7 linked regions of the Homo sapiens genome follow. The protein of the gene in region 1 purifies or fractionates together with the protein of each later gene. This does not show direct contact. Each region holds a gene or a part of one and is shown in the gene's direction. Other genes may lie near its edges.

Region 1 (3,500 bases):
AAGGACTCCATTACATTTTAACTTCTGGTGTATATCATATAATCTATTTTGTTAACCGTCAATTTAGAATTCTGAAGATGTAGACACATTTGCTATATGTAAAACTGCCCACTATAAGCTTTTTATTCAAATAAACAATTAGGCCAATGAGTATGTACACAATAAATACATTTTTAGTTTTTCAAAAATCATCTTTTTAATCTATCAACTTTGCATATCTTTAGCTTATTCAGATTCCGTCTTTTTAAAGTTTTATAGTTTAGTTTTTTTCAAACTTTTAAGCCCAGCCAGTTCTCTCTCATTTAAAAAAAAAAATGCTCTTATGGTTTTCTCCAAACAGGTTGTTTGTGGGTTTCATGGAATGTGGTATATAGTAAACTACATAATTGCAGTTTAACTCTTCTTTTTTTCACATTTAGGTTCCTTATCGATTACATGCCGTTTTAGTTCACGAAGGCCAAGCTAATGCTGGGCACTACTGGGCATATATTTTTGATCATCGTGAAAGCAGATGGATGAAGTACAATGATATTGCTGTGACAAAATCATCATGGGAAGAGCTAGTGAGGGACTCTTTTGGTGGTTATAGAAATGCCAGTGCATACTGTTTAATGTACATAAATGATAAGGCACAGTTCCTAATACAAGGTAAGAATATATAGGGTGGTGTGTATTTTTAAATAGTCATAAAAGTGGCTCTGGTATGTGGTGTGATTAGTTAAGTGTAATTCACTCAGACGATGAAGGATGTGGTTAGGAAATGCTACTGGGTTTTGACAAGACTGAATTGAAAAGTAATGTCGTCAGGGCTAAGAATTCGTATATATTTTGTATTCCAAGTCAACTATTAAAGGTAAATATGACCTTTTTCGTCCTTGCTAAAAATGCTTTAGTGACTGTTCCACAGATTGACTCACATTTAATATTTAATTCCTTAGCCTAACATATATGGCCTCTGTTCTTGGCCTCTGATTATCTCCCCACCTTCATTGATCACCAGTGTTCCTTTTGAATTTATATCCTTACTGAACTTCTTGCTGTATCTGCTCATATCAAACCATTTCACACATTTATGTTTGCATGTTCGTATATGTTTTATTTTTTGCTAGTAATTCTTTTGCCTAATTCTTGTTTATCTGTCAAGATTCAATTCAGGTGTCATTTCCCCTGCAAACTATTTCTTGATCTGCCAAAAAGTATCTCTCCTTATGCTGTCCTGGCATCTGTCTACTGGGCATTTACTGTTGTGTATTGGAACTGTGTGATGACTTGTCTTGCACATTTCTCTCTTATCTGCTCAGAGCCAGAGATCATGTCATACTATGTCTGAATCTTTTTAATGCTGATATTCTGATATATGCTTTGCATATAGAAAATAATAAAGGTTTATTGAAACTGATAAAAATAATCTTTTTATATTTAGTCATTCAGAATCAGCTAGGCAGTCCACTTCTGACTAAAAAAATGAAGTTATTTTTCTGTGTGTGTAGTAGAAGTTCAGTAATTCTTCTGAATACTCTATTGTTTTTAAGATCTTGCTATATTAATTTTCATAATTGCATATTTAAGTCTACTTAATTTCTTCATATGACAAACAATTTTCATTTTATTTTGAGCTAATAAGGTTAACATGATTATGAGTTGTTTACATTTTGTGAAAAGTTTTACTTTTTAAGTGATCAAACATCTGGTATTTTCCAATAGTGGCAGAAGTAGTATTACATCACTGTTAGAGTAGCAAAGAAAAAAAAAAATGGCCGGGCGCGGTGGCTTATGCCTGTAATCCCAGCACTTTGGGAGGCCAAGGTGGGCAGATCATGAGGTCAGGAGATCGAGACCATCCTGGCTAACACAGTGAAACCCCATTCTACTAAAAATACAAAAAAATTAGCCGGGCTTGGTGGTGGGCACCTGTAGTCTCAGCTACCCGGGAGGCTGAGGCGGGAGAATCGTCTGAACCCGGAAGGCGGAGGTTGCAGTGAGCCGAGATTGTGTCACTGCACTCCAGCCTGAGTGACAGCATGACACTCTGTCTCAAAAAAACAAACAACAACAGCAACAAAAAACTTGGCTTTGGCTTTGTATTTTCTGTCACTTCTACTCTTAAGATAAAAAAAAATCTGAGACCATTACCTATGATGGATTATCAAATATTTTCATCATTGTTTTTCTGAGCATTTGTTTGAGTTTTAAAAAGTTTTGTAGATAATAATTATTTGCTAAGCAATAGTAATTCTTAAGTAATATGATTGGCTGAGTGGTAATAATTCATAGTTTAAATTCTATTTGAAATGCAGTCTATTTTGAGCTTTGCATTTTCCCTTTAATTCTTAATTTTATACTAGTTTTTGAAATATGATTTGCAGAGGAGTTTAATAAAGAAACTGGGCAGCCCCTTGTTGGTATAGAAACATTACCACCGGATTTGAGAGATTTTGTTGAGGAAGACAACCAACGATTTGAAAAAGAACTAGAAGAATGGGATGCACAACTTGCCCAGAAAGCTTTGCAGGAAAAGCTTTTAGCGTCTCAGAAATTGAGAGAGTCAGAGACTTCTGTGACAACAGGTTTGTCCATTTTTATTAAGTTGTGTTTGATTATCAATATTATTTTTATAATAAGATATGCTCATTATTAAAAAGTTTTAGCTATCTTAAAGTGTGAGGAAATCAGTAGAAATCATTTCAAATTCCATCACTCAGATTATCACAGTTAACAATTTAGTTTACCTTTTTGCCAGACACCACTGTATATATTTATATGTTTTTCAAGATAAATGAGATAATTCTGTTGACTTTCCCTCTACCTACTCTGCCTGTGTTGGGTGGGCTTGAATTTTCTTGGCAAGTAGCAGAGAAAGCTGTGAAATCAGCAAGAAACCCAAACCAATTCACTAAAGCTATCAAGAGTATCAATTCAATAAAGCTATCAAGAGTATCAATTCAATAAAGCTATCAAGAGTAGTAATTTTAAATTTGGCCAAAATAATACTACCGGTATATTCATATATACTTTGTGCAATAGTAAAATACTACCATTAATAACTATTTGATGTTTTTCGGAATTCTTAAGATTAAGAGAAAATTGACCAAAACTATTTAGTATATCACAGGTAAAAAGTAAGTGTATAGACCTGTAAACCAAAGATATAAATGCATAAACATATAAATATTTAAAAACATTATTCTGAAATGAACTATTAGCTGATGAAATCAATAAGTCAAAGTAAACACTGTATAGGAATTAAGAAAATAGTTTCTAGTAAAATTGAAAATATATTGTCTTTTTATTTTCTTAAAAGATTACTCTTCACTGAGTTGCAAATATGTTTTAGGGCAACATGTTTTCTGGTATAGAAAATGCTATTTCTCAGAGAAGCTATAAATTAAGCGCATATATTTTCCTCAAACTCATTTGTCTCTTTTTATAACTGCTAGTGGATATTATTGAATAACTTTTTTTTTTTGCAAGATCTGCATGTTTTGTGTTTTAAGGAAGTA
Region 2 (3,179 bases), on another chromosome or scaffold:
ATTCTCCTGCCTCAGCCTCCCGAATAGCTAGGATTACAGGTGCATGCCACCACACCCGGCTAATTATTTGTATTTTTAGTAGAGACGAGGTTTCACCATGTTAGCCAGGATGGTCTCGATCTCCTGACCTCATGATCCGCCCGCCTTGGCCTCCCAAAGTGCTGGGATTACAGGTGTGAGCCACTGCCCCTGGCAAATTGTAGTAAATTATTTAAAAATAACAATATCTTTGGCTTGGGCATGGTGGCTCACACCTGTAATCCCAGCACTTTGGGAGGCTGAGGTGGGCAGATCACTTGAGGTCAGGAGTTCGAGACCAGCCTGAGCAACGTGGTGAAACCCTGTCTCTACTAATAATACAAAAAAAATTTAGCCGGGTATGGTGGTGCCTGCCTGTAATCCCAGCGACTCGGGAGGCTGAGGCAGGAGAATTGCTGGAACCTGGGAGGCAGAGGTTGCAGTGAGCCATGATCACACCACTGCACTCCAGCCTAGGTGACAGAGCGAGACTCTGTCTCAAAAAAAAAAAAAAAAAAAAAAAGCCAAAACAAGAAAAACAATATCTTCAGTTCATATTCTAAAAAGCAGAAGTGAATTTTACTTTATGAATAGAGCACTTTGCAAATAATTCTTTGTTGACCAAATATTTTAATGCCTGCATGAGTTAAGTAAAAGCTGTTCTATGAGAATTATAACATTGTTATTTGGAAGAATATATTAAGAGGAAGCAGACTTATGATTTGTCATTTAATAGATAATCCAATACTATAGGATAAAGGCAGCTTATTGGAGAAATGATTTTAAAAATATTTTCTTGCACAATTTACAAAATTTAGTTTAAAAAAATTGTCCAGTAATTTACCCCCACTTACTTGTGAAATTATGAGCTCTTTATTTCTTCTTCCCTTCAAATTTATCTTAACAACTTTTTCAAAACTTTTAACTTTAATTTTTATTGCCAACAAGTTGCTAGGATAGTACAAATAACTCCTAAATCTCTTCATCCAGAGTCATCAATTATTATCATTTTTCTACATTTCTTTCCCCTCTTTCTATATATACATATATGTAATTTTTTTCCTTTTTCTTAAACCACTTGAGACTTAATTATCAATATCATGCTTCTTTACCCCTAAAGTTCTTGTTTTTGTCACTCACATTACCTTCAGCTATGAGGCTTGTGGGCTTCTCTCGTGGTTTTATTCATTTTTTCACTTTTAACAGTTTTACTGAGGTATAACTGAGATACCATACAGTTTATTTTAGACTGCATTTTTATTCCTTCCTTCCTCTCACTGGCAGTTGCTGGTACAGTGCTGCACCTGGCTGAGTGAATGGTTTCTTTTGGAGCTGATAAAGCTGCCTTATGAAATCAGCTGACAGGTATATTATACCTACAGATGATGCCTTTTCTCTCAGAGCGCTTGGGTTGAGATTGACCCACTCCACAATTGCTAGTGGACATTCTGAGCAAAAGACCACATTTCTGTCCAATTTTGTGAATGTAACTATCAACTCATTTGAACTCTAAAACACTTAAGTTGTCATTTTACTATAGTGTAAAGATGACCGTAGATCTAAAAGATATTTTTTCTGAATTTTGACATTGAAGGAAGAAATCTATTTTTAGAAATCAAAAATGAAGAACTCACGCCCTTTAGGTTGCATACTTGGTTCTGGAGTGGCATGGAAGATGTTTGGAATGGCTGACCCTCTGTTGCTTTCACTTGGGTTGTTTGCATTTTTATTTTTTAAATATATTGCTTGGTGATCAGCGCATTTTTATTGACTTAATAGTTGTGTCTAAACTATTATAAAGCCAAATTGGGTAGTGTGTAACTCCTACTAATGTATTTCTCTCTTTTTTCCTCACAGGGATGAATTGTAAAAGCAACATCAGCTTGACCAGTATAAAATTACAGTGGATTGCTCATCTCAGTCCTCAAAGCTTTTTGAAAACCAACACCATCACAGCTTGTTTTGGACTTTGTTACACTGTTATTTTCAGCATGAAAATGTGTGTTTTTTTAGGGTTTCTGATTCTTCAAAGAGGCACAGAGCCAAATTGGTAGAGGAAGGATGCAAAGTATAAATTTGTGTAATATTACTTTAACATGCCCATATTTTACTTGGAAATATTAAAAGAAAGGGTTCTGTAAAATGGAAAACTTAGTTTGTGAATTGATTTTGAGGAGTGGTTTTTCTTTTCTTGGACACTTAATTCTGTTCTGATATTAATTTATCAGATTGCTTTTGTGCATTGGATAACACCACCATTCACAAGTTAAGATTCTTGGTATTTGGATATCTGTTAGATGCTACTAAGAAAATAGAGATGAGCTTTCTTTTTAAAGCTTTTGATGTGGTGTCATAGAATAGCATGTTGTAGATACAATCAGCTGCTTTGTTACCTTAAAACTAGGCATTTGTAAATATTAAACCATAAGATGGCAGGTGATGTCCTGTAAACACTCAGCTGTTCAGATTGGACATAACTGACTTAGTTCTTCCCTTCTCTCTCTCTCAAAATTATAGGAGACTTGTAGTTTAGTGTGGTTTTCTGTTTCTAATTTGCTGCTGATAATGTATATGAACTTAACATGCTGTGTAAGCTGTGTCCTAGTTCTTGAACAGTTTATGCAGTGCTGCTTTGCCAAATAAAGTTAAAAGTAAAAGAGGCATTGGTTGTTTTTGAATATAGAAGGAAGAACAGCAAGTCCACCAGATAGGGAGTGTTTACGATCATGGGAAAAAGACTGTTTCTCTGGTTGTTTCCTTTTGCGAAGTCTGAGTAAGTAATTAGCATTAATCCAACTGTACATTGTAGAATGTGACTACACTGCTCCAGGGCCAGGACCGTACTTCAGTCGTCATTTCTCTTTGACTCCCTAGCCCAGGGCTTGCCCTGTAGTAGCTATACAGTAAATGCTGGTGAGTGAGTGAGTGGTGAATGAATCGACTTAAAGTCAGGAAAGAACAGGATTGAGGGTGAACAGACCAAAACCCATCTCTCACCTATACAAAGATTTATTAATATAATGACTATAGCTGAATTTCTAAGAAGGCAGTAGCACTTTGGGATCTTATTTAAATGTTGTGATTTATAACTTTTATAAGAAGTAGTTCTGGAACTGAGGAAATATAAGCTCCAGAATGAGCAGAATCAGCACTCCCAGCAA
Region 3 (3,249 bases), on another chromosome or scaffold:
TCCAGGTAATAAATATGCTCCCATTAATCAATGATTTACACCATCTATCTATTTTATGTGGGCAGCTGCTGTACCATTATAATGAGAGCTCCAACTCCTCTGAGAAAAATGACACCTGAATTGTTTTAGTGGTGTTTTGGCATAACTGGCGTATATTGCAGAAATGACCTTCCCAATCAAGAGTGGTTAGAAACTATAGCTGATTTTCAAAACAATGAACACTGTTTTGCTTTCTGGGAATTCTGTAAAGCACAAGGAAAATATTTTTAAAAAGCAGAAGGAAACAGTGATAGTGATTGGCATCTGGCCATTTGACAGTAAAGGTTTGAATGATTTGACTAAAGATTAGCTTACTTCTTTCCCTTGTCTACAGAAGGTATCGTTTAATACTTTCATTGTAGAGACTGGTTTATATGTGATCTAAGAGTACACTTTGTAGATGATACAGACTAAATTAGATTAACAACAAATTGGTGCATGTATAAAATTCCACGTATATTCAGCATTCTAATTCTTTAGATTTTTAAATATGCATTCTGATAAGAGATGACATTATCCACCCTCACTCTGCCCACAGAAAACTCTATAAACATAAACAATTCTGAATATTCTTATAAGCTTTTACACATGTGCAAGACTTTCAACTTTTTCAAAGCATTTTGATAAATATCTCACTTCAGAGTCACAATCCTGATGCAATAACTAGAGTAGATATTGTTTTGTGACAAGTGAGGAAATGGGAACCTGGAATTTAATGTGCTCTAGCCCAGTGCTCAGTACCCAGAGGGTACCCACTAAAAGGCAGTAAGTAGTGAATGATGCTTTGTAGTTGGAATTTACTACAGACCCAACTCTATCAGTGATCAAAATATATTTTCCTTCAGCAAAGCCTTTTAAATACCAGGGATCTACATTTGAGAAAGTCATTGCAATAATGTAAGTGATTGCAAAAAAAGTAATTGTTTTGTTCTTTAAGAAGATGAAAATGCTATTTTCTTTACTTTTAATCCAGAGAATGTATTTATAGAGGGAAGACAGTCCTAAGAACAGTATTGATAAGGTATATGTCATAATATGTGACTAAAAGTTATCTGTGACAGAGCTCCTTTAATTACTTTTGCATTTCTATAATTATTTACTTCAAAACTATTGTTTTCATTCTTTAGGAGGAATTACTCATGATACTTTCCAAAAGGAGCTCATGTGCTTTGACCCTGATACTGACAAATGGATCCAGAAGGCGCCAATGACCACTGTCAGAGGTCTGCATTGCATGTGTACAGTGGGAGAAAGGCTCTATGTCATTGGTGGCAATCACTTCAGAGGAACAAGTGATTATGATGATGTCCTAAGCTGTGAATACTATTCACCTATCCTTGACCAGTGGACCCCAATTGCTGCCATGTTAAGAGGGCAGAGTGATGTTGGGGTCGCTGTCTTCGAAAATAAAATCTATGTGGTTGGGGGGTATTCTTGGAATAATCGTTGTATGGTAGAGATAGTGCAGAAATATGATCCAGATAAAGATGAATGGCATAAGGTTTTTGATCTGCCAGAATCCCTTGGTGGCATTCGTGCTTGCACACTCACAGTTTTTCCACCAGAAGAAACCACACCATCACCTTCTAGAGAGTCCCCTCTTTCTGCACCTTAAGATCATCTCTACAACTAAGATGCTGTAGTTCTATCTTTGCAATGTGTCATAAATTCTCTTCTTTTTCCCCCTTAAGTAGTATATATGTTAGGATTACCCTCTGGTAATTGATACAGATATTGGAAAAAAGACAACATTGATGTTATTTGTGCTCTTTGTTTGGCCTAGAATGTTTATAAAGTGGTAACACAACCATTCTGGAAATGTATCCCATAGAAGCTGATGTTTAACATATGAAAAAAAAAGTATTGTCTATAAAATGTTTCTTCAGTACTTTTTAAATGCTGTGTATTGGGTGTAAGGTATTTGTCATCTTACATTAGTAAACCCAATAAGCCAAGTTGAAGGTGGATTATAGTAAATGTACAACTGTGCTCACTAGGCTTCAAGTAAAAAGTTTTCCTTTCATCTTTGACTGTAAGATGTCAAAGGGAGGCAGCCTGCTTGAACAGGAAACAATACACAAAAGGTTGCCAACTCGCATGAGCTACCTCCCTCTTTTCATAAAGTATTTTTGACATATCTGTCAACCCACTTGACTGTGTGGGTGCATTGAGAACACAAAGTTTCCTAGACACACAGGAGAAGTAGCTTAAATTCACTAATATTAATTTAAAAAGCAGCATGAACCCTCTACTTATAAACAAGGGTTTGGTGTTTTTAAAGTGTGTATACATACATACACATACACACATGCACATATGTCAAATATAATTTTTTTAAAAATTGAGTGGCACATCAAAGAAATGTGAAATTAAAAAGAATTCTTCCAAAAAGCAGCTTCCATTAAAATGGGAATTCAGTATGCACATACTGAATGCATATATGTAGAACCATACAGAATTTAGGTGGATAAGGGCTAGAAATTTTGAGCAACAAAATTTGTCACTTGACCAGATTTTATCTTCAAAAACTGTATTCTACTCCTTCTCCTTTGCTGTTGAGGTAACTTGCATATTATATGTATTCTGTATACTCAGTTCATAAGGTTATTTAGCACAAAGTATAGCAGCTTCACCTGGAGAGCTGCTTTTGCTCAGTAAATTCAACTTCCATGTTTTATCTTTTTTTGTTCAATAAAAACATTTAATGTCATTTTGGTCTGAGACATCCCATTATTGTCTGATTTGACTTCCTTTGATTAAATATCTATATTTTTGGCATGGCAAAATGTGATCAGAATTTACAGCTCTGAGCAGCTTGGATGAGTGAATATGCCTTTTTATTCAAGGAAAAAAAGAATTTGACAAAATCTAACCTTATTCATCAAAACTCATTGCTGGTTGTGTTTGGGGAATTAGATTATGGAAGATGCTAACTGGCTTTTCATCACCACAGAAGAACTGCCAGCCATATCTAAACCAGAAGAGCAGTTACAATTCCGAGTTTAGTCTCCCTGATCTTCAAGAGGATCCATCTTGCCTGATGAGAAGGGATTGTGTAAAATTACCTTAGAGATTTGTCGACCTGGGATCCCAAAGGAAAAATGTTTTTGTGAAAGATTATTTGAGAATTATATTAGCATCGTATTGTGATCTTCTCTACTTTATCTGCAGATGATCAGATTAAATCTGAGCCAAAAATTTAGGGCTATG
Region 4 (3,500 bases), on another chromosome or scaffold:
GGAAAATATTCATAAGCAAATATTTCAGTACTATTTTTACTGTTTCTTAGATTTCTGCACCTAATGAATTTGATGTCATGTTTAAACTGGAAGTCCCCAGAATTCAACTAGAAGAATATTCCAACACTCGTGCATATTACTTTGTGAAATTTAAAAGAAATCCGAAAGAAAATCCTCTGAGTCAGTTTTTAGAAGGTGAAATATTATCAGCTTCTAAGATGCTGTCAAAGTTTAGGAAAATCATTAAGGAAGAAATTAACGACATTAAAGGTAAGACTTTTGCCTTTTGATTCTTAAAGGTTTAATTATACCTAGTAATTGCCAATGTACACTCCCATTCTCATGTTTCTTGACCTCTCTGCAGTAAGAAAAAGTGCAGTAGAGAGGTCAAGAAACATCAGTAGAGGAGTGTACATTGGCAATTACTTATAATATGATTACAAGATTATAAAGTACAGAAGGGTAGAGGTCTTTATCTATTTGTTCTCTAATGAATCCTAAATAACTAGAACACCTACACATTAGATAATCAATGAATATTGATTAAATTAAATGATTAAATTATATGAAATAATCAATGAATATTTATTAAATTGATGGATAAATGAATCTACACTCTCTGCCTAGGTATTTCATCCATTCCCAATGCCACCTATATGATGATGACTCCCAAATGTTTACTTGCAGCCCAAATATATCCTTTGCACTCCAAACCTATATCCAGCTACGTCCTTAACATATCCACTTTGATGTTGATGTACCACAGGAATCTATAACCAAACATATCCAAAGCGAATAAACATAACTTAATTCATATACCAAACTATGTTTTGCCTCAGTCCTTCCCATCTCAGAAAATGGCACAATCAATCCACCCAGACGCACCATCCAGAAACCTGGGAACCATCTTAATTTAATCCTCTCTGTTACCCCCTACGCTTAATCCAGATGCAAGTGCTGCTACAGCTTGGACCTGTCTGCTGCTTCAATCCCAGCACCCTACTCCCACCCCACCTAAGCTGCCACCATCTTTTACCTGAACTATTACATCATTTTCCTTTCTAATCTCCCTATTTGCCTTCTTATAATATCTGTCCTTAGAAGCCAGAGTAAATGTTTTAAAATACAAAGCCAGTCATTACTCTCTGATGAAAACCTGGCTTCTCAATGATCAGATAATAAAATCTGGTGCCAGGCGCAGTGGCTCACACCTGTAATCCCAGCACTTTGGGAGGCTGAGGTGCGTGGATCACCTGAGCTCAGGAGTTTGAGACCAGCCTGGCCAACATGGAGAAACCCCATCTCTACTAAAAATACAAAAATTAGCCGGGTGTGGTGGCACATGTCTGTAATCCCAGCTACTTGGGAGGCTGAGGCAGGAGAATTGCTTCAACCTGGGAGGCAGAGGTTGCAGTAAGCCGAGATCGGGGCATTGCACTCCAGCCTGAGTGACAAGAGCGAAACTCCATCTCAAAATAAAATAAAATTAAATTAAATTAAATTAAAATCTGGCCAGGCGCAGTGGCTCACACCTGTAATCCCAGCACTTTGGGAAGCTGAGGTAGGTATATCACGAGGTCAGGAGTTCAAGACCAGCCTGGCTAAGATGGTGAAACCCCATCTATACTAAAAATACAAAAATTAGCCAGGCGTGGTGGTGGATGCCTGTAATCCCAGCTACTCGGGAGGCTGAGGCAGGAGAATCGCTTGAACCCGAGAGGTGGAGGTTGCAGTGAGCCGAGATCGTGCCACTGCACTCCAGCCTGGGCGACAGAGCAAGACTCCGTCTCAAAAATAAAATGAAATCTAAAGTCCTTTTCAGGGTCTACAAGTCAGTACAGAATCTGGTCCCTGGCTGCCTCTTCAGCTTCATTTCATATAACTTCATCTTTTCCGAAAGAGTCTCTTTTTGTTCCTAGATCTTTCCAAGCTCTTTTTTTCTGCCTCAGGGCTTGGCTCCACCACCCCATTCCACCCTAATTGCTATCACTTTTCCCAGTTTATTCCCTTCAGAGCACTCACTGCAATTTGTGTTGTATGTTATTACGCTATTAGATTAAGAGCTTTATCTTGCAAGCACAGACGTACAATTAATAACAAATGGAAAAAATGATTATCTTGTATACTGGAAAGTAGTAAGTGCTGTTGTGAAGAAGTATAGCAAAGTGAGAGGGATCAGGAATGTGGGAGATGGAGGTGGGGGGGAAGTTGCAATGTTAAGTAGAGTGGTAAGAAGAGAATTCCATTAGAGTTTGGGAAGAGCCAGGCGCCGTGGCTCACGCCTGTAATCCCAACACTTTGGGAGGCCGAGGCGGGTGGATCACGAGGTCAGGAGTTCAAGACCAGCCTGGCCAAGATGGTGAAACCCCGTCTTGACTAAAAATACAAAAAACTAGCCGGGCGTGGTGGCGGGTGCCTGTAATCCCAGCTACTTGGGAGGCTGAGGCAGAGAATTTCTTGAACCCAGAAGGCGGAGGTTGCAGTGAGCTGAGACCGCGCCACTGAACTCCAGCCTGGGCGACAGAGTGAGACCCTGTCTCAGAAAAAAAAAAAAAAAAAAAAGAGTTTGGGAAGAAGAGAATGAACAAAAGGAGACTATGAGTGTTTTGTAGAAGGAGCGGTCAGTGTTTGGAATGCTACTGACATCCAGAAATCCAATGGATTTGTTCTTTGGTCTTGTGGGGTTGACAAGAGAAATGTCAGTGGGGTGATGGACACAGAGTGAAAAGGCAGGGTTGCAGTGGAGATAACATGTGTAGGCCACTCTAGAAAGTTCTGTCTGGGCTAACTGTGGTGTCTCAGCACTTTGGGAGGCCAAGGCAGAAGGATTGCTTGAGCCCAGGAGTTCAAGACCAGCCTGGGCAACAAAGTGAGAGTCCATCTCTACAAAAAAAAATTTTAGGCCAGGTATGGTGGCTCATGCCTGTAATCCCAGCACTTTGGGAGGCCAAGGTGGGCGGATCACAAGGTCAGGAGTTCAAGACCAGCCTGGCCAAGATGATGAAACCCCGTCTGTACTAAAAATACAAAAATTAGCCAGGCGTGGTGGCAGACACCTATAATCATAGCTACTCAGGAAGTTGAGGCAAAAGAATTGCTTGAGCCTGGGAGACAGAGGTTGCAGTGAGCTGAGATTGCGCCACTGCACTCCAGCCTGAGCGACAGAGCAAGACTGTCTCAGAAAAAAAAAAAAAAAAAAAGAAAGAAAAAAGAAAAAAACATTTTTTTAATTAGCCAGGAGTGGTGGCATGTGCCTGTGGTCCCAGCTACATACGATGCTGAGGCAAGAGGATTGCTTGAACCTAGGAGGTTGAGGCTGCAGTGAGCCATGTTCACGCTACTGCACTCCAGCCTGGGTGACAGAACGGGACCCTGTCTCAAAAAAAAAAAAAAGTTTGGGCTGGAAGGAAGCAGAAAGATGGGTGAGTATGGAGAGGAGGAAGATGTGGGGTGAAAGGAGAGGTATACCCTATAACCCTTTGTATGAATTTCAGAATAAT
Region 5 (3,945 bases), on another chromosome or scaffold:
AAGGTTATACAGCTAGTTAGTGGCAACAGGAGGGATTTGAACACAGATCTGTTACTGTTCAGTTGGGAAGAATTTAAGTTATGGCTTAAAACTAGGATTTTGCATTTAAAAACATTGCTCTGAGAAGGGATCCATAGGTTTCATCATTCTGCCAAAGGGATCCCCAGCAGCAAAAAAGTTATGAACTCCTGCCCTGAATTCTGCACCATTACAGAAAACCAGAACACACCTAGCAAACAACTGGACAGCAAATGGAGCAGCAGAGTGCACACCACCAGACCCCGCTGGAGAACGCCCATCTAGAATTGTGCAAGCACAGATTGAAGGGAGGCCTGCGGGGCAGCATGGGTACCCAGGGCTGAGAAAGACAGTCACGGTTTTCTTTGGGGAGGTGTTTTGTCTTCCCCCATCTCCTTAGTACCTAGCTCCATGCCTGGCAGTTTCTCAGTAGCTGTTGGCCAAGTTGAAGTGAATCTGGATCTAGGTTGGAAGGCTAAGGCTGGAATACAGAATATTTCCCCTTTTTATAGGTACATGGAGCCAAGAACATGTGGAGGAATAAGAATGCTAAGAATGACAAATATACATGTGGCTTTTGACAGTTTACAGAGCACTCCATTAATCACTAGCTCACTCTATCCTGAGAAGTGGCAAGGCAAATATTTGTATTACTTCCAATTTACAGGGAAAGCAACTGGGCCTCAGAGGGTGACTTGCTCCGGTTTGCAGAGCTAGGAGGTGGCAGGCTGTGCGCTCAAACTCAGGCTGTCTAACTCCACATTCTGTGGGGTGAGAGGATGGGTGATGGGGTGTCTTTTCTGGAGGAGGGAGGTGCTGTGAGCCTAGCGAGATGGAGGTACAGTGGGTGTGGGCCTGGAGCGCTGGGCCCAGGCAGGGGCTTCTGATTAGGAAGCCCTGGGGCACCAGTTCAGGTTCTCCCAGAGAGTAGTGTGATGGGATCCAGTAACCTGTGCCCTCCAGATGACTTCTGTAGGTGTGTTTAGTGACATGCTCAACGGGTGCGGGAAGGATGGGCTTGTGCCAAGGGCCAAGCCCAGAGATGTTTCAGATTTTTCCCTTTATGCCCCTGCAACCAAGCCCTGCTGCTCCAGGACATATAAGAGACGAAGGCTGAGGGCTCCAGCACTCACCGGCCTGGGCCCTGTCACTTCTCTGATAGCTCCCAGCTCGCTCTCTGCAGCCATGATTGCCAGACAGCAGTGTGTCCGAGGCGGGCCCCGGGGCTTCAGCTGTGGCTCGGCCATTGTAGGCGGTGGCAAGAGAGGTGCCTTCAGCTCAGTCTCCATGTCTGGAGGTGCTGGCCGATGCTCTTCTGGGGGATTTGGCAGCAGAAGCCTCTACAACCTCAGGGGGAACAAAAGCATCTCCATGAGTGTGGCTGGGTCACGACAAGGTGCCTGCTTTGGGGGTGCTGGAGGCTTTGGCACTGGTGGCTTTGGTGGTGGATTTGGGGGCTCCTTCAGTGGTAAGGGTGGCCCTGGCTTCCCCGTCTGCCCCGCTGGGGGAATTCAGGAGGTCACCATCAACCAGAGCTTGCTCACCCCCCTCCACGTGGAGATTGACCCTGAGATCCAGAAAGTCCGGACGGAAGAGCGCGAACAGATCAAGCTCCTCAACAACAAGTTTGCCTCCTTCATCGACAAGGTGAGCTGTGTCCTCGGCTGGAGAGGGGCAGTTAGAAGAGAGGGGTCCTGAGTCCTGGGGTCTCAGACCTGAGCCTGCCACAGGTGCTGGGGAGACCACTGAACTTCCCTGGGCCCCAATTCTCCAGCTGTTGAAGGGGCATCATGACTTTGAGCCTTCCTTTTTGTCCCGTGGCTGGTGGGAAGGTGGGATGCTCAAGGCAGTTAAGTGTTTGGAATTCCCTAGACAGGCTGTGGGATACTGGACAAATCATTTGGCTTTTCTGGCTCTAGTCATCCCAGCTATAAAGGGGGTTCATTATTTCTCTGCTTTTTCTCAGATTTTGGTTTTGAATATAATGCAGTTAACCCCATTAATCACTTAACAGTGGCCACTTCTGTTCTTAGAACAGAAGACAACTAAGCTGATTTTGCAAATGAAAAAGGGACTGGCTCCAGTGGCAGATTCTAGGTCTCACCAAGGCCTTGGAAATTTACTTTTTTCATTCCTTTGACTGGACAACACTGCTCATGTCTGGGTCTGTTTGAAGAAAGGAGACAGGTCTCTTTTCTTTTTGTAGCCCAACTTCCTTTTTCATGCAACGTCTAGAAGTTCAAGTTCTTTAAGCTCAGTTATGGTCATGCATGATGGATGATAGTGAGCAGTGCAGCCCCAGAGAGCCGAGTCATCCAAAGATTGATGACTGGGTGGATGAGTGCCTCCCTTTGGTCCAGGTTGCCCTGGTTCACCAGGCATCAAAGTCTTGGGCAGCTTCGACATATGGGGCAAGAATGAACACTTTTGGAATAGAATAAGGTGCATATTTGTTCTTCTTGCTAGTTTGAATAAACCCATAGTAACTTAAAGAGGTTTTACTGTGACTATAGGACATGCAGATGTGATAGCAAAAACTCAGGGCTCTTTGATGCATCCTTGTCTCATCTCATCTCATTTTACCTTTTGGGTTCAAAATGTGATCGGTCTGCCTTACCTGCTTTCCTTTCAATTCTGAGGCTCATAACATGGAAATGTCATGCTAAGCTGCTGTCCTGGTTTGTCTGGCTAGATTTTTTCATAGAGAGAGGGAAAGTTCAGGAAAGTCCTTTGCAGAATGGAGTTTAGGTGAGACAATGCGTACAGGGCCCTTGTTTTAAATATCTATACTCAGTTGTTCACAGGTTCACAGGGACACGCCAGATCCATTGATAAGTAAGCTTATTTAAAAAGTCTGTAGTGACTTTGTCTTTCATTTGCCTTGGGTCAGGATCACTTTGAATGCAAGAGCCTCCAGATTGTGATGTCTCTTAATTTTATTTTGTTATTTCATAGAAGTTTAATGTTCTTTGGGGCTTTGGGTGCCTGCGGCTAGGAAGTTGTTCTTGTTGCACTGTTAGGCCCTGCTTCTCTGGCTGTGCTCTATTCTCCACAACCTATGTGACCCCTTGGTGCTATGGGCTCGAGAATGGGGCCATCATGTCAACCCGAGTGAATGGTGCCCTGGAGATGCAACATAGTGGCCCTACTTGGGTGGTTCTTGGGCCGTGTAGTTCCCTGGGATTGACTGGGTTGGTGTTGCCTTGGCTGGCCCTCCTGCCACACTTCAGGCCCTCATCACTTGGCTGGTGCCTTTATCAACACAGGTGCAGTTCTTAGAGCAACAGAATAAGGTCCTGGAGACCAAATGGAACCTGCTCCAGCAGCAGACGACCACCACCTCCAGCAAAAACCTTGAGCCCCTCTTTGAGACCTACCTCAGTGTCCTGAGGAAGCAGCTAGATACCTTGGGCAATGACAAAGGGCGCCTGCAGTCTGAGCTGAAGACCATGCAGGACAGCGTGGAGGACTTCAAGACTAAGTACATGGGGAGGAAGGAGGGGACGCCATCTGACACATGTGCCCAGCCACACCCAGGCTCCCGGGGCTCTCTCCAGTGGCTTAGAATCTCAGGCTCTGAAGGCGTCTAGGAAGGCCCTCTAGTCTGTTTTGCTACATCCACATAGTCACGTTTTCTCAGGGTGAGGTCTGGTAACCACAGATTTTTCCGAAAGGAAATTTAATGATAGATTCAGGGATTTGGGTCTGCCATATACGAACAAGATCAGAACCCAAATAGATGAAAAGCAGTATAGTATGATTAGAAGAATACAGACTGTAGAGACAGATGGAGGTGGTTTGCATACTGAGTCCTCACTTACTAGCTGTGTGACCTTGGGTAAATAGCTGAACCTCTCTGAGCTTCAGTTTTATTCATCTTTGAAATGGGGATAATATTCCTACTTTATGGGTTGTGAGAATTAAATG
Region 6 (3,500 bases), on another chromosome or scaffold:
AATCGTGTTGTATGAAATGTTTTATAATCTGTTTTTTGTTGTTGTTAATAATTGCCATCTTTACATGTCAATAAATTTTTATTTAATATCCAGTCCAGGGCATACTCCGGTTTCTCCAGTTGTTCCAGAAATGTGTTTTTACAGCTGGTTCATCAAACCAGGGTCCAGTCTAGATCTTCACGTTGCATCTGGTTATCTGCAAGTTAACAATGGAAAGCATGACTTTACAAATAGTTTCATGTAATAATGTTGAAGAGATGATAAGAGTTATAGGTATTCTATGGCACGAATGTAATTACTGGTTCAGGTAAGGATTATCATTGATAGGTAACTGCCTTAATACAGTTACCATAATAATACCATAAGCATTACTTTATTACATAAGCCAAATAATACCATAAGCATTACTTTATTACATAAGCCAAATAATACCATAAGCATTACTTTATTACAATCCAAGGGGTCCCTTTTTCCTCACGATGCTGGCTTGTTAAAGAGACTGCCAGTTGTCCTGCACAATGACCCGCTTTCCAACTTTGCCTGGTTGTTTACTCCCGGTATCGTTTGGTTTATTACCCAGCCTTATCCTTAATTTCCTGTAAACCAGACTGTAGATTTTAAATGACTGATATTGGGTGGGCACGGTGGCTCACGCCTATAATCCCAGCACTTTGGGAGGCCAAGGCAGGTGGATCACTTGAGGTCAGGAGTTTGAGACCAGCCTGGTCAGCATGGTGAAACCCCATCTCTATTAAAAATACAAAAATTATGCCAGGTGCGGTGGCTCATGCCTGTAATCCCAGCACTTTGGGAGGCTGAGGCAGGTGGATCACAAGGTCAGGAGTTCAAGACCAGCCTGGCCAACATGGTGAAACCCTGTATCTACTAAAAATACAAAAAAATTAGCCAGGCCTGGTGGTGGGCATCTGTAATCCCAGCTACTCAGGAGGCTGAGGCAGGAGAATCGCTTGAACCTGGGGAGGCAGAGGTTGCAGTGAGCCGAGATCGTGCCACTGCACTCCAGCCTGGGCAACAGTGCGAGACTCCATCTCAAAAATAAATAAATAAATAAATAAAAAATTACAAAAATTAGCTGGGAGTGGTGGTGGGTGCCTGTAGTCCCAGTTACTCAGGAGGCTGAGGCAGAAGAATTATATGAACCTGGGAGGCAGAGGTTGCAGTGAGTCAAGGTTGCACCACTGCACTCCAGCCTGGTCAACAGAGCAAGACTCTGTCTCAAAATAAATGAATAAATAATAAAATAAATAAAATGACTGATATTAAACATTTTGTTTAGAATACATTTTAGGTAATATTATGTATGTATTTCACGTTGGGCCACATCAAGCAACCCATAATATTGTTAATATGACTCGTCATTAATGACGTTCATAATTGGCCCCTGGATCTAGGGGATGGTGGTTTGATTTCTCTATCATTGTTACATTTCCTTGTTGCTAACTATAAAATAATGCATATGGTATTTGGCCACTGTATTAAGGCAGTTACCTATCAATGACACACAAATTGATAATCCTTACCTGAACCAGTAATTACATTTGTGCCACAGAATACCTATAAGTCTTTTCTCTTCAACATTATTACATGAGATTATTTGTAAAGTCATGCTTTCCATTGTCAACTTGAAAAATTCTTGATTTGGATGTAGTCCAATTCCTCACCATTTTTTGCCTAATGCTGTATCCTTATGGTCTTGTTTAAAAATGTTTTTCTGATTTTCTGTTACCTGTGAGCTTTGTAGTTTTATTTTTATTTTTTGAGGCAGAGTCTTGATCTGTCACCCAGGTTAGAGTTCAATGGTGTCATCTCGGCTCACTGCAACCTCCACCTCCCAGGTTCAAACAATTTTCATGTCTCAGCCTCCCGAGTAGCTGCGATTACAGGCGTGCACCATGACACCTGGCTGATTTTTTATTTTTTATTTTTCTAAATGGAGTCTCACTCTATTGCCCAGACTGGAGTGCAGTGGCATGATCTCGGCTCACTGCAACCTCTGCCTCCCGGGTTCAAGCGATTCTCCTGCCCTAACCTCCTGAGTAGCTGGGATTACAGGCGTGCACCACCATGCCTGGCTAATTTTTGTATTTTAGCAGAGATGGGGTTTCACGACGTTGGCCAGACTGGTCTCGAACTCCTGACCTCGTGATCCGCCCGCCTTGGTCTCCCAAAGTGCTGGGATTACAAGCATGAGCCACCACACCCGTCTAATTTTTGTATTTTTTGTAGAAAGGGGGTTTTGCCATGTTGGTCAAGCTGGTCTCAAACTCCTGAGCTCAAGCGATCTGCCCACTTCGGCCTCCCAAAGTGCTGGGATTACAGGTGTGATCCGCTATACCTGACCTATAGTTTTAAATATGGATTTTTTTCATATATGGGTATTTTAATCTAAATGGAACTCACTTTTGTAAATATGATTGTGAAGGGATTTAGCTCATTTTTGTCTTCCATAGGGTGAGGTAGTTTTCCCAGTGCCAGGTATTAAACAGTCCAGAGGTAGCCAGCACCCAAGACAGCCACCAGGGGTTCTTGCCTCCTGGTTTCCAGGCTCTTGTTCAGTCCCCTCCCACACCAAATAGGGCAGACCTTTTCAGATCCTCACCAAGGAGACCCTTGTGTATGACCAATAGGACATTGCAGAAATGACAGCATGTGACTTTGAAGCTAGGTCATAAAAGACATTACAGCTTCTGCCTCTCTTTGAGATCACTCACTCTATGTGAATGCTATGTGAGGACACTCAGGCATCCCTAAGCAGAGGTCCACTTGGTGAGGAACTGAAGCCCCTGCCGACAGCAAGCACAGACTCCCCGCCATAGTGGTGACCTGTCTCAGAACCAGAGCTTCTAGGCCCAGGCAAACCTTCTGATGACTGCAGCCCTAGCCAAAATCCAGACTGCAGCTTCATGACAGATTCTGGGCCAGGGCCACCCAGCTAAGCCCATCCCAAATTCCTGACCCACAGAAACTATGTGAGATAATGTTTATTTTTATTTATTTATTTTTAAATAGAGACAGAGTCTTGCTCTGTCGGCCAGGCTGGTCTCGAACTCCTGACCTCAAGCAGTCCTCCAGCCTTGGCCTCCCAAAATGCTGAGATTACAGGCATGAGCCTCCACACCTGGACTGTTGTTTTAAGCTGCTGAGTTTGTAGTAATTTGTTACCCAGTAACAGAGAACAGACTTTGGTTTCTGGAATGGGGGTCTGCCATAACAGAAACCTCAAATGTAGAAGTAACTTTACAACTGAGAAGTGGGAAGAAGCTGGAAGGACTTTGAGGAGATTGTTAGTAAAAGCTTAAGGAGTGTTAAAAAGTATTGGCTGGGCACAGTGGTTCACACTTGTAATACCATAACTTTTGGAGGCCAAGGTGGGAGGATCACTTGAGTTCAGGAGTTCGAGACCAGCCTGAGCAATATAGTGAGACCTTGTCTCTAAAAAAATTAAAAGAAAAAAGGTGAGAAAGTCTGTTAATAAGAGT
Region 7 (3,500 bases), on another chromosome or scaffold:
GCATTTATTTATTGGTATACTAATGTTTTGAACAAAAACTGTATTCACATGGCTCAAAATTTAAGATGTTAGTCTGGGCAACATGGTGAGACCCCATGTCTACAAAAAATAATTTAAAAAACATTAGCCAGGCGTGGTGGCGCACGCCTGTAGTACCCGCTGTTGGGAAGCTGAGGCCAGATGACCAGGTTGGAAGTGGCAGTGATCTGTGATTGCACCACTGCACTCCAGCCTGAGTGACAGAGTGAGACCCTGTCTCTAAAACAAACAGAAAACCAAAATATAAAATTGTCAGTAGGGAATAGAATGAAAATCTCCCTCCACTTCTTGTACCCTTGTCATCCAGCTTTCCTTGGAGCCAAACATTGTTAGCTGTTTCTTAGATCTCCTTGGAAAAAAATATTTGTGGACATATAAGCAAATATTGTTCCCACTTTGCAGAAACAGTAGTACACTTTACTTTGACATTTGTATTTTTTAGAGTGTTAAATAGTAGTTAAGTTATGAAATAGGATGAGAACACAGAGAATGTAGAAAGAGGATAAAACTGTGGAGTACTGCAGCATTTTCTGATTTGGTCCCTGCCCTTGTTAAGTTCATTTATTTATTTATTTATTTATTTTGAGATGGTGTTCGCTCTGTCACCCAGGCTGGAGTTTGTATTTTTAGTAGAGATGGGGCTTCACCATGTTGGCCAGGCTGGTCTCGTTAAGTTTTTGACCTACAGGTGTGGAGTTGTTTAAAAAGCTGTTTCCGGCCACGTACGGTGGCTCAGGCCTGTAATCCCAGCACTTTGGGAGGTTGAGGTGGGTGGATCACTTGAGCCCAGCAGCTTGAGACCAGCTTGGGCAACATGGCGAACCCTGTCTGTACAAAAAATACAGAAATTAGCCAGGTGTGGTGGTGCAGGCCTGTAATCCCAGCTGCTAGGGAGGTTGAGGTGAGAGGATTACTTGAACCCAGGAGGTGGAGGCTGCAGTGAGCCACTATACTCCAGCCTGGGTGACAGAACTAAGAGAGTTTCATTGTGTTGCCCAGGCTGGTCTCGAACTCCTGGGCTCAAACAATTCTCCCACCTCAGCCTCCCTAAGTGTTAGGATTACAGGCGTGATCCACTGTGCCCGGCCTTGTTTCTTGTTTCTTTTTTTTTTTTGAGACAGAGTCTCTCAGTCTGGAGTGCAGGGGCTCAATCTCAGCCCACTGCAGCCTCCACTTCCCGAGCTGGGACTACAGGCGCCCTCCACCACTCTCAGCTAATTTTTGTATTTTTAGTAGAGACAAGGTTTCACTATGTTGGCCAGGCTGCTTGTTTCTTTATTTTTATCTTTTTCAACTTTCATTTTAGATTCAGGAGGTACACACGTAGGTTTGTTACCCGGGTATATTGTGTGATGCTGAGGTTTAGGATACAATGATCCCGTCACTCAGGTGCTGAACATAGTACCCAACCGTTTTTCAACCCTTATGCCCTTCCTCCCTCGCTGTAAAAAGCTGTTTCTTTTTGTGAGACTTTACAAAAGTTTGCACTGTTTGTTTTGTGTTCTACCTTATCTGCCTGTTCTTTGTGTATTCTGGAAAAATGTCTGGCTGTGATTGAAAGCAATGTTTCATATGCACTATCAGTTTTTTTTTTTTTTTTTTTTTTGAGACAGAGTCTGGCTGTGTCTCTGGTTCCCGGGTTCACACCATTCTGCCTCAGCCTCCCGAGTAGCTGGGACTACAGGCGCCTGCCACCATGCCCGGCTAATTTTTTGTATTTTTCATAGAGATGGAGTTTCACCGTGTTAGCCAGGATGGTCTTGATCTCCTGACCTTGTGGTCCGCCTTCCTCAGTGTCCCAAAGTGCTGGGATTACAGGTGTGAGCCACACCGCGCCTGGCCCTAACAGTTATTTTTATTTTTATTTTTTTTTGGGACGGTGTCTCGCTTTGTCGCCCAGGCTGGAGCGCAGTGGCGCGATCTCAGCTCACTGCAAGCTCTGCCTCCTGGGTCTACGCCATTCTCCTGCCTCAGTCTCCAAAGTAGCTGGGACTACAGGCAGCCGCCACCATGCCTGGCTAATTTTTTGTATTTTTTTAGTAGAGACGGGGTTTCACTGTGTTAGCCAGGATGGTCTCAATCTCCTGACCTTGTGATCTGCCTGCCTCAGCCTCCCAGAGTGCTGGGATTACAGGTGTGAGCCACCACACCCAGCCAGTTATTTTTTATTATTATTATTTTTTGAGATGGAGTCTCACACTGTCACCCAGGCTGGAGTGCAGTGGCACAATCTCGGCTGACTGCATTCTCCGCCTCTGGCATTTAAGAGACTCTCCTGCCTCAGCTTCCCAAGTAACTGGGATTACAGGCGCCCACCACCACCCCCAGCTAATTTTTTTGTATTTTTAGTAGAGACGGGGTTTCACCATGTTGGCCAGGCTGGTCTTGAACTCCTGACCTCATGATTCACTTGCCTCGGCTTACCAAAGTGCTGGGATTACAAGTGTGAGCCACCAGGCCTGTCCAACTATCAGTTGTTTTTAAGTAAATTGATGACAGGATCAGCCCTAGAATCTTAATATTATGAGGACTTATGACTGGCTCATGTTAAATCTTGGAAAAACAAGCAGCGATTTGGAATGTTATGAGATTTATAACAAGTTATTGATCTATGAGATGTATGACTGAACCCTCTCTCAGTAATCAGTTAATCACAATATCTATTCAGAGTGATTTGGCTCTGTGCCTGGGTTTGAATCTTACTGGTAACGTATCTGTCATATTGCAGTTAGCATAATCTTTGGGTTACCTTTAAGAATGTATAGATTTCTATATCAGTACTTTATATTTGGCTTTTCATTGGGAAAGGCTTATTGGAGACAATCCCTTTGATTCTTAAAAGTTTTGAGACAGTAGTAGTGTTAGGTTAAGATTGTGGTGTTGGATCTGTAGAAACTTCCGGGGTGCCTTGAACCCTGTTGATTTTTCTTTTGGAGGAGGAGAGGTGGAATATTTCCTTTTGCTTTAAGCTTTGTTATTCTGGAGAATTAAAAATTCAGACTGATACTGTGTCTTGTTTGCTTGTTTGAGACAGAGTTTCACTCGTCACCCAAGCTGTAGTGCAGTGGCGCGATCTCAGCTCACTGCAACCTCTGCCTCCTGGGTTCAAGTGATTCTCCTGCCTCAGCCTCCCAAGTAGCTGGGACTATAGGTGTCTGCCACCACACCTGACTAATTTTTATATTTTTAGTAGAGATAGGGTTTTGCCATGTTGACCAGGCTGGTCTTGAACTCCTGACCTCAAGAGATCCGCCCTCTTTGGCCTTCCAAGGTGCTGGGATTACAGGTGTGAGCCACTGTGCCTGGCCTCTTTTATATAGTTTAACATTATAAATAATGTTAGTTACATCTATTAATTCAGTGACTTAGTCTTTCTCTATTGTAGGTTGCTTTTCAAAGAATGAAACATGGATTTGCCATATGTAAATTTTTAAAAATATCTCAGCCTTGTTTTAATTCAG

The links.
Region 2: the proteins of USP25 (region 1) and PCMT1 purify together in Homo sapiens (affinity purification with mass spectrometry, with the first as the bait; one large-scale study listed by BioGRID). This does not show direct contact.
Region 3: the proteins of USP25 (region 1) and KLHL13 purify together in Homo sapiens (affinity purification with mass spectrometry; 2 studies listed by BioGRID). This does not show direct contact.
Region 4: the proteins of USP25 (region 1) and CGAS purify together in Homo sapiens (affinity purification with western blotting, with the first as the bait; one study listed by BioGRID). This does not show direct contact.
Region 5: the proteins of USP25 (region 1) and KRT4 purify together in Homo sapiens (affinity purification with mass spectrometry; one large-scale study listed by BioGRID and IntAct). This does not show direct contact.
Region 6: the proteins of USP25 (region 1) and KCTD13 purify together in Homo sapiens (affinity purification with mass spectrometry; 3 studies listed by BioGRID and IntAct, with this or other methods). This does not show direct contact.
Region 7: the proteins of USP25 (region 1) and CUL2 purify together in Homo sapiens (affinity purification with mass spectrometry; 2 studies listed by BioGRID and IntAct, with this or other methods). This does not show direct contact.

The regions. Positions count from the first base shown.
Region 1 is NC_000021.9:15,830,982-15,834,481, forward strand, and holds part of USP25 (ubiquitin carboxyl-terminal hydrolase 25), read left to right. Parts: intron 1-419; coding exon 420-648; intron 649-2,345; coding exon of another isoform or gene 2,346-2,359; exon of another isoform or gene 2,360-2,366; coding exon 2,367-2,567; intron 2,568-3,500. UniProt on the Homo sapiens protein: Deubiquitinating enzyme that hydrolyzes ubiquitin moieties conjugated to substrates and thus, functions in various biological processes including inflammation and immune response.
Region 2 is NC_000006.12:149,808,741-149,811,919, forward strand, and holds the end of PCMT1 (protein-L-isoaspartate(D-aspartate) O-methyltransferase), read left to right. Parts: intron 1-1,875; coding exon of another isoform or gene 1,876-1,888; 3' UTR 1,889-2,679; downstream 2,680-3,179. UniProt on the Homo sapiens protein: Initiates the repair of damaged proteins by catalyzing methyl esterification of L-isoaspartyl and D-aspartyl residues produced by spontaneous isomerization and racemization of L-aspartyl and L-asparaginyl residues in aging peptides and proteins.
Region 3 is NC_000023.11:117,897,313-117,900,561, reverse strand, and holds the end of KLHL13 (kelch-like protein 13), read left to right. Parts: intron 1-1,166; coding exon 1,167-1,654; 3' UTR 1,655-2,749; downstream 2,750-3,249. UniProt on the Homo sapiens protein: Substrate-specific adapter of a BCR (BTB-CUL3-RBX1) E3 ubiquitin-protein ligase complex required for mitotic progression and cytokinesis.
Region 4 is NC_000006.12:73,442,298-73,445,797, reverse strand, and holds part of CGAS (cyclic GMP-AMP synthase), read left to right. Parts: intron 1-50; coding exon 51-270; intron 271-3,500. UniProt on the Homo sapiens protein: Nucleotidyltransferase that catalyzes the formation of cyclic GMP-AMP (2',3'-cGAMP) from ATP and GTP and plays a key role in innate immunity.
Region 5 is NC_000012.12:52,811,317-52,815,261, reverse strand, and holds the start of KRT4 (keratin, type II cytoskeletal 4), read left to right. Parts: upstream 1-1,145; 5' UTR 1,146-1,203; coding exon 1,204-1,665; intron 1,666-3,284; coding exon 3,285-3,499; intron 3,500-3,945.
Region 6 is NC_000016.10:29,916,227-29,919,726, reverse strand, and holds part of KCTD13 (BTB/POZ domain-containing adapter for CUL3-mediated RhoA degradation protein 1), read left to right. Parts: exon of another isoform or gene 1-196; intron 197-3,500. UniProt on the Homo sapiens protein: Substrate-specific adapter of a BCR (BTB-CUL3-RBX1) E3 ubiquitin-protein ligase complex required for synaptic transmission.
Region 7 is NC_000010.11:35,083,842-35,087,341, reverse strand, and holds part of CUL2 (cullin-2), read left to right. Parts: intron 1-3,500.